2 linked regions of the Homo sapiens genome follow. The protein of the gene in region 1 interacts with the protein of each later gene in a pairwise test. Each region holds a gene or a part of one and is shown in the gene's direction. Other genes may lie near its edges.

Region 1 (3,676 bases):
TACAGGTGTGAGCCACCGCGCCCTGCCTAGAGTTTGATTCTCTTAAACCGTTCTACTAAAATACTATCAGTTTAAACTACCATCTACAGAAATAAAAAACATAAACCACTAAAAGATTAAAGCATTTAGGAGTTTATATGCAAAGAAGTCTTGCAAGGGAGTACAAGCTTTAGGAGGACAGGCTTATCAAATTAAAAAATGAAAAAACCTACAAAATTACCAAAGTCACCAAGTTTAGTTATTCTTTTCATGGTGGAAAACAGTTTCCTCAGATAATCATCATATCAGAGGTCATCATGTATCCTTAGATATCAGCATTGCCAAGACCAGGGATATAGTTATTAGTAATTTACAGGAAAGGCTCAAGGTTTCATTTACATGGGAAATGAGAACTAGACAGTGTGGTGACTGTTTTTGTTGTTAACCTTACCTCAGTGTTTTATCTCGGGTGGTCCCCAAGACCACCTTCAGGATCAGTGATTCACTGGAGGGACTCACAGAACTCAGAAAAGCTGTTAAGTTATGGTTATGGTATATTATAGCAAAAGAATATATATTAAAATCAGCAGCTGAAAAAAGGCACATAGGGCAAAGTCTGGGGGACACCAGGCACAAGCTTCCAGTTGTCCTTCACCTGTGAAGTCATGTAGACAGACCATAATTCTCTCAGCAGACAGACCATAATTCTCTCAGCAACAATGTGTGACAACATTCTTGGAGAATTGCTAACCAGGGAAGCTCCACCAAGCCTTGGTGTCCAGATTTTTTCTTGAGGGTTGGTCACGTAGGCATAGCATGACTGATAGCCCATGTGGCTGACCTTCAGTTTTCAGCCCCTCCAAAGATGGAGCTGATACTACATGGCCTAAGGACTTCACCATTAATCACATTGTTAGCTTAGACTACCTGGTATGGCCTAAGGCCCCCAAGTAAATTAAAACATTCATATCAGGCAGGATAGTCCAAGGACTTAGAGGTTATCTTGAATCTGGACACAGGACAAACATTTCTTTGGAATGTGAAAAGTTTACACAATCAAGACTTGCTATGTTGATCCTTTACTGCGGTATTGTTTTTTGTTTTCTGACCCAAAAGTGATGTGCATTGCTTACCTATCATGGCCTCTGGTTAAGGTGTCAGTCTTGCCTCCAAATTTCCTCCTAAAGCATGGAATTGGCCATAAATTTGCTTAGTGATTTTCTGATTTAGTATCATTAGTTTGATGACTAGTTTTATTATGTGAGTGTGATAAAAGGTTACGCTTAGTATACAAAGACCTTCTTATAAGTCTAGTTAATAAAACTAGGGCCATGTGTTACTACAACATAGGAGTTAACTTTGTCTGGAGGCTTTTTCAAGCCCAAGAGGTTGTCATTTCTTTATGTGTAAGATACTGCCCACATACTATACTGAAGTCAGGAACCAAGAACCGGTCAATTTACCTCAGCCAAGTTGCTTGGACTGCTTTGCTTAATAATGGGTTTGCCATATCTACTTTAATGAGATGTGTGGCATGGTGATGGTTACAAAAGTGATTTGTTAATTATTGCCTGGTAGGAAGGAGAACATGTTTTTTTTGAACCTATGCAAATAGCCACATGTCTGTGAAAAGTAAAGGGATACTTTTGTGTAATATTTAACCATGTATACCATTGTTTGTGTACTTTTTAATTGTGTCATTTTCTACAGTATTATTTTTGCATTTTCCTGACACTGTATTACTTACAAGTTATATTAATAATTTTTATTAATTTTTTTCCTGAATCCTAAAAGGTCAGTTGGAACATGAGACCATTTAAAGAATATTATTTCCTTCCAGTTTATTCAAGGGTGGCCTATTGAGAGTTTGAGATAAAGAAGAAAGGAATCTTTCCTTTCCTTCCCCCTCAGCCCGCCCCCTACCTTTCTTTTTTTTTTTTTTTTCTTTTCAGGGTCTTGTTCTGTCACCCAGGCTGGAGTGGAGTGAATGCAATCAAAGCTCACTGCAACCTCAAACTCTTGGGCTTAAGCAGTCCTCCTGCCTCTGCCTCCCAAGTAGCTGGGACTACAGGTGCATGCCACCACACCTGGCTAATTAAAAAAAAAAAAAAATTTTTTTTTTTGAGGAGACGCGGTCTCACTTTGCTGCCCAGGCTGGTCTCAAACTCTGGGCTCAAGCAATCCTTCCACCTCAGCCTCCCAAAGCTCTGGGATTACAGGCATGAGCCACTGTGCCCGGCAGAATTTTTCTGTGTCCATTAGAAATAGAAATCAGTCACATGCTATGATTTCAATATGTCACTCAAAAGCCATGTGTTGGGGCTGAACGTAGTGGCTCACGCCTATAATCCCAGCACTTTGGGAGGCAAAGGAAGGTGGATCACTTGAGGTCAGGAGTTTGAGACCAGCCTCCAACATGGTGAAACCCCGTCTCTACTAAAAAAAAAAAAAAAATTAGCTGGGTGTGGTGGCATGCACCTGTAGTCTCAGCTACTCATCAGGCTGAGGCAGGAGAATCGCTTGAACCCAGGAGACAGAGGGTGCAGTGAGCCGAGATCATGCCATTGCACTCCAGCCTGAGCCATAGAGTGAGTCTTGGTCTCAAAAAAAAAAAAAAACCTTGTGTTGGAAACCATCTCCAATGAAGCAGTGTTAGGAGATAGGGCCTAATGGATATAAATTACAGTGTCTAAGATGGATACTTTACTCTTTTCTTTTGAGAAGGGAGAGAGTATGTTATGCACTGAGAACTTTTCAGATTTCTTGCAGAGGTCATAATGTTCCAGACAAGCTGGCAGCAATCATTCCCATCCCATCACAGATCCAGGCTTATTTGTAGAATGGTTACACAAACCAAGCAAAACCTTCTGTAAAGTTTCTACCCTTTGCTCTAAAGTTACATAAAAACAATTTCCAAGTTTGTTCACTGTGTATATTTTGTTCTTTTTCATGGTAGATTTGTCTGTTGGAGTTAGATATCCCTAAATAGTGTGTTCAAATGATGTTTTTTTCTGACTGTTCAATCTCCAGCATATTTCTGAGGGAGAAAGGACATTGACTTTGGAGAAAGAAAGCTGTGTAATTACAAATGGACTATTACAAAGAACTATGCCTTCCTTTTTGAGGAGAAAAAAGATGGTTTTTAAAAATTAATACGCAGGCTGGGCGTGGTAGCTCACGCCTGTAATCCAAGTCCTTTGGGAGGCTGAGGTGGGAGGATGGCTTGAGCTCAGGAGTTTGAGACCAGCTTTGGCAACATAGTGAGACCTCATCTCTACAAAAAAAATTTAAAAATTAGCCAGGCATAGTGATGCATGCCTGTAGTTTCAGCTACTTGGGAGGCTGAGATGGGAGGATTGCTTGAGCCCCAGAGATGGAGGCCGTGTGAACCATGATCATGCCACTGCACTCCAACCTGGGAGACAGAGCAAGACCCTATCTCAAAAAATAATAGCAATACACAGAACTACCAGCCTTAGTTTATAACATTAGCCACAGATGGATCAAATGTAATAAAAGTACAAAAAGCGTGAGTCATTGGTTAATGGTAGCAGCTCCAGATCTCCAAGGGCTTCTCTGCATTCCAGTGGCCACAAAAATATTTTTCTTAATTGATTTGAACTCATAGTGGCACAAAAAAATGAAAAACAAGTTTCGTCAATGGTCAGAAGATGAGAAAGAAAGTAAATCAGTGATG
Region 2 (3,970 bases), on another chromosome or scaffold:
CTGACCCCTGCAAAAGTCCGCTCATAGCAAATATACAGCTCAAGGCTACTGCAGACGTTGGGGCGGCGTCATCCAGCCCAGCAGCCCCTTGTGCTCCCTCCAGAGCCCACGTGCCCTGGCTCCTCACTGCAGTCAGCGTTCCCTGTTTTGGTGTGAATGGAATTCCTTGTGCTCCCTCCGGAGCCCACGTGCCCTGGCTCCTCACTGCAGTCAGCGTTCCCTGTTTTGGTGTGAATGGAATTCCTTGTGCTCCCTCCAGAGCCCACGTGCCCTGGCTCCTCACTGCAGTCAGCCCTCCCTGTTTTGGTGTGAATGGAATTCCTGGAGCTACCTCCAGAGCCCACGTGCCCTGGCTCCTCACTGCAGTCAGCGCTCCCTGTTTTGGTGTGAATGGAATTCCTCGCGCTCCCTCCGGAGCCCACGTGCCCTGGCTCCTCACTGCAGTCAGCGCTCCCTGTTTTGGTGTGAATGGAATTCCTTGTGCTCCCTCCGGAGCCCACGTGCCCTGGCTCCTCACTGCAGTCAGCGCTCCCTGTTTTGGTGTGAATGGAATTCCTTGTGCTCCCTCCGGAGCCCACGTGCCCTGGCTGCTCACTGCAGTCAGCGCTCCCTGTTTTGGTGTGAATGGAATTCTGTGGCACCTGTGCTTCTGTCTGGCGTCTTCAGACCTACACTGTGTTTCACTTGATAATGCCAGATTCTTCTCCAAAGCATCCATCCACATCGTGCGAGGTAGCCGTGGTGCTGCATGCGCGCCAACACTTACGTGGTCAGCGGCTCCTTCTGTTCCCTCTAGTGGACACGTAGCACATCCTATTTTGGTTTAATTTGCAAATTCATGAGATTCGTGGGATTGAACATCTCTTCCTGTGTGCATTGGCGTATGATTGGCTAGGGCTGCCGTAACTCAACACCACAGCCTGAGTGGCTTAAACAACGGTTTTATTTTCTCACTTCTGGAGTCTGGATGTCAGAGATCAGGTTGCCGGCAGGGTGGGTTCCTCCTGAGGCCTCTCTGTGGCTTGCAGACGGCACCCTCTCCCCTGCGTGCTCATGTGGACTCTCCCCCTGCGTGCTCACGTGACTCCTCCCCCGCTGCATGCTCACTCCTGGTGTCTCTTCCTCTTTTTTTTTTTTTTTTTTGGGACAGAGTCTTGCTCTGTTGCCCAGGGTGGAGTGCAGTGGCATGATTTTGGCTCATTGCAGCCTCTGCCTCCCAAGTTCAAGCGATTCTCCTGCCTCAGCCTCCTGAGTAGCTGGGATTACAGGTGCATGCCACCACGCCCGGCTAATTTTTGTATTTTTAGTAGAGATGAGGTTTCACCACGTTGGTCAGGCTGGTCCCGAACTCCTGACCTCGTGATCTGCCTACCTGAGCCTCCCAAAGTGCTGGGATGACAGGCGTGAGACACCGCGCCCGACTCTTCCTCTTCTTGTAAGGACAACAGTCCAGGGCCCCAGCCTTAGGACCTCATGTAACCTTAGCTGCCTCCTCAGAGGCGCTGTCTCCAAATACAGTCATGTTCGGGGTGAGAGCTTCAACCCGTAAATTTTGGGGGGCAGAGCTCAGTCCATAGAATTGGCCTTTCGACAGCCCCTCTTTTGGAGCTCCAGGCCATGTCTTTTGCCCATTGTTTATTGGATCATCTGCCCTTTGTCATAGATTTTTTTAGGGTATTTTATGCTGAATATGAGCCTAGCGTTGGTTATATGTGTTGCAAATATCTTCTCCCAGTCTATGGCTTGCCTTTTATTCCTTCACTGGTGTCTTTGGTGAATGGAAGGTCTTAATTTCAAGACAAACTCATAGGCTAATCTATTCCATTGTGGTTAGTCCAACATCAAAAGGTTCATTCTAGCATTCTAGCTTTCTTTTTCATTATTCTAACTTCCTTTCCCAATAATGAGAAACCTGGCTCGCCCATTATCACTAACACAGTTACTTTGATCGAGTCCTCTTGGTGTAACCAATCCCCCATTGCTGCTGTGGCCCCTTCCCCTATTTGCAGGCCCCTCTCCTGCCTGGATGCCTCCCCAGCATCACCGAGCTTGACAGCCCAGCCTGGCTGCCTTCCACACAGATGCCTTCACCCTGCTGGAGCCACAGCCCCCCTTAGTGTAGGGGAGGCAGGCCCCATCTGCAGGCCTAAGGCAGGAAAAGAAAGGGAGGGGCCAGACAGGACACTCCACTGGCACAGATTGTCTCAAATAGGGGAGGTTTTTGCCGGGCGCAGTGGCTCACGCCTGTAATCCCAGCACTTTGGGAGGCCGAGGTGGGTGGATCACCTGAGGTCGGGAGTTTGAGACCAGCCTGGCCAACATGGTGAAACCCCGTCTCTACTAAAAATACAAAAAAATTAGCTGGGCGTGGTGGCAGGCACCTGTAATCCCAGCCACTTGGGAGGCTGAGGCAGGAGAATCACTTGAACCCAGGAGGCGGAGGTTGCAGTGAGCCGAGATTGCACCACTACACTCCAGCCTAGGTAACAGAGCGAGACTCCATCTCAAAAAAAATAAAGTAAAATAAAATAAGGGAGGTTTTATTTTTCTTTTCCAATGCTGATATTGTTTACTTCTTCTTGCATTATCGCCCCTAGCTAAACTCTCCGGTATGATGTTGATAATAGCTGTCTTTCTCCCTAATCCCAGAGGAAGAACTTTCAGCATTTCACTTTTTTAGGTTGAGTTTTTGCTGAAGGTTTTTTGTGGTGGGGGTAGTGGAGGGAGGTTAAGGAAGTTTCTTTCTATTCCTGTTTTAATATAGATCTTTATTTTTTAAATCACGATTCTTTGTTTTTGTTTCATATATTTTGTATCTTTGTTGTTAGATGTGTATACATTTAGGGTTTTTTTTTTTTAGGATAATTGACCCTTATATTGTTACGTAATCTTCCTCTTTGTCTGGCAACATTCTTTGTTCTGAAGTCTACCTTGTCTGATATTAATTAATCCACTCGGGCTTTCTTTTGATTAGCATTCGCGTGGTATAACTTTTTCATCCCTTTTTCTTTTTACCTACCTCTCTCTTTTATATTTGAAATGAATTTCTTGTTTTTTGAGACGGAGTCTCTGTTGCCCAGGCTGGAGTGCAGTGGCACAATCTCGGCTCACTGCAACCTCTGCCTCCTGGGTTCGAGCGATTCTCATGCCTCAGCCTCCAAAGTAGCTAGGGTTACAGGCATGTGCCACCATGCCCAGCTGGTGGCGTTTGTATTGTTAGTAGAGACAGGGTTTCACCATGTTGGCCAGGCTGGTCTCGAACTTCTGGCCTCAGGTGATCCACTTGCGCTGGCCTCCCAAAGTGCTGGAATTACAGGCGTGAGCCACTGCGCCCGGCCTAAAGACAAAAACTGTTGAAAGCACACAGAGAGAGCGATGCACAGCCCACAGGGGACAGTGACTGGAGCGGTAGTGGGTTCTCAGCAGCAGCTGTCATCAGATTTCTCCTCAGAAGGAAGTGGCATAATATTTTTCAAGTACTGAAAGCAAAAAACTGTCAACCCATAATTATACATTCAGTAAAAATATTCTTCAGGAATGAGAGTGAATAAAGACATTCTCAGATGAAGGAAAAGTTTGTCACCAGCAGACTGGATCTAAAAGAACTGATAAAGGAGGTACTTTAGACACAACAGAAGGAAGGAAACTAGGAATGTCAGGAGTGAAGGAAAACTAATGGCAAGGATGAATATGATAGACATTCTTTCACACTTAACTCTTAAAATTACGTTGACAGGCCGGGCGCCGTGGCTCATGCCTGTCATCCCAGCACTTTGGGAGGCCAAGGCAGGTGGATCACCTGAGGTCAGTAGTTGAAGGCCAGCCTGGCCAACATGGCGAAACCCCGTATCTACTAAAAATACAAAAATTAGCTGGGCACGGTGGCGCACACCTGTAATCCCAGCACTTTGGGAGGCCGAGGTGGGTGGATCACTTGAGGTCAGGAGTTCAAGACTAGCCTGACCAACAT

The links. Proteins that work in one complex are often made in the same cells at the same time.
Region 2: the proteins of CEP57L1 (region 1) and CCDC57 interact in binary tests that used the Homo sapiens proteins (3 or more experiments, as listed by UniProt).

Annotation. Positions count from the first base shown.
Region 1 is NC_000006.12:109,171,518-109,175,193, forward strand, and holds the end of CEP57L1 (centrosomal protein CEP57L1), read left to right. Parts: 3' UTR 1-2,901; downstream 2,902-3,676. UniProt on the Homo sapiens protein: Centrosomal protein which may be required for microtubule attachment to centrosomes.
Region 2 is NC_000017.11:82,167,681-82,171,650, reverse strand, and holds part of CCDC57 (coiled-coil domain-containing protein 57), read left to right. Parts: intron 1-3,970. UniProt on the Homo sapiens protein: Pleiotropic regulator of centriole duplication, mitosis, and ciliogenesis. Critical interface between centrosome and microtubule-mediated cellular processes. Centriole duplication protein required for recruitment of CEP63, CEP152, and PLK4 to the centrosome.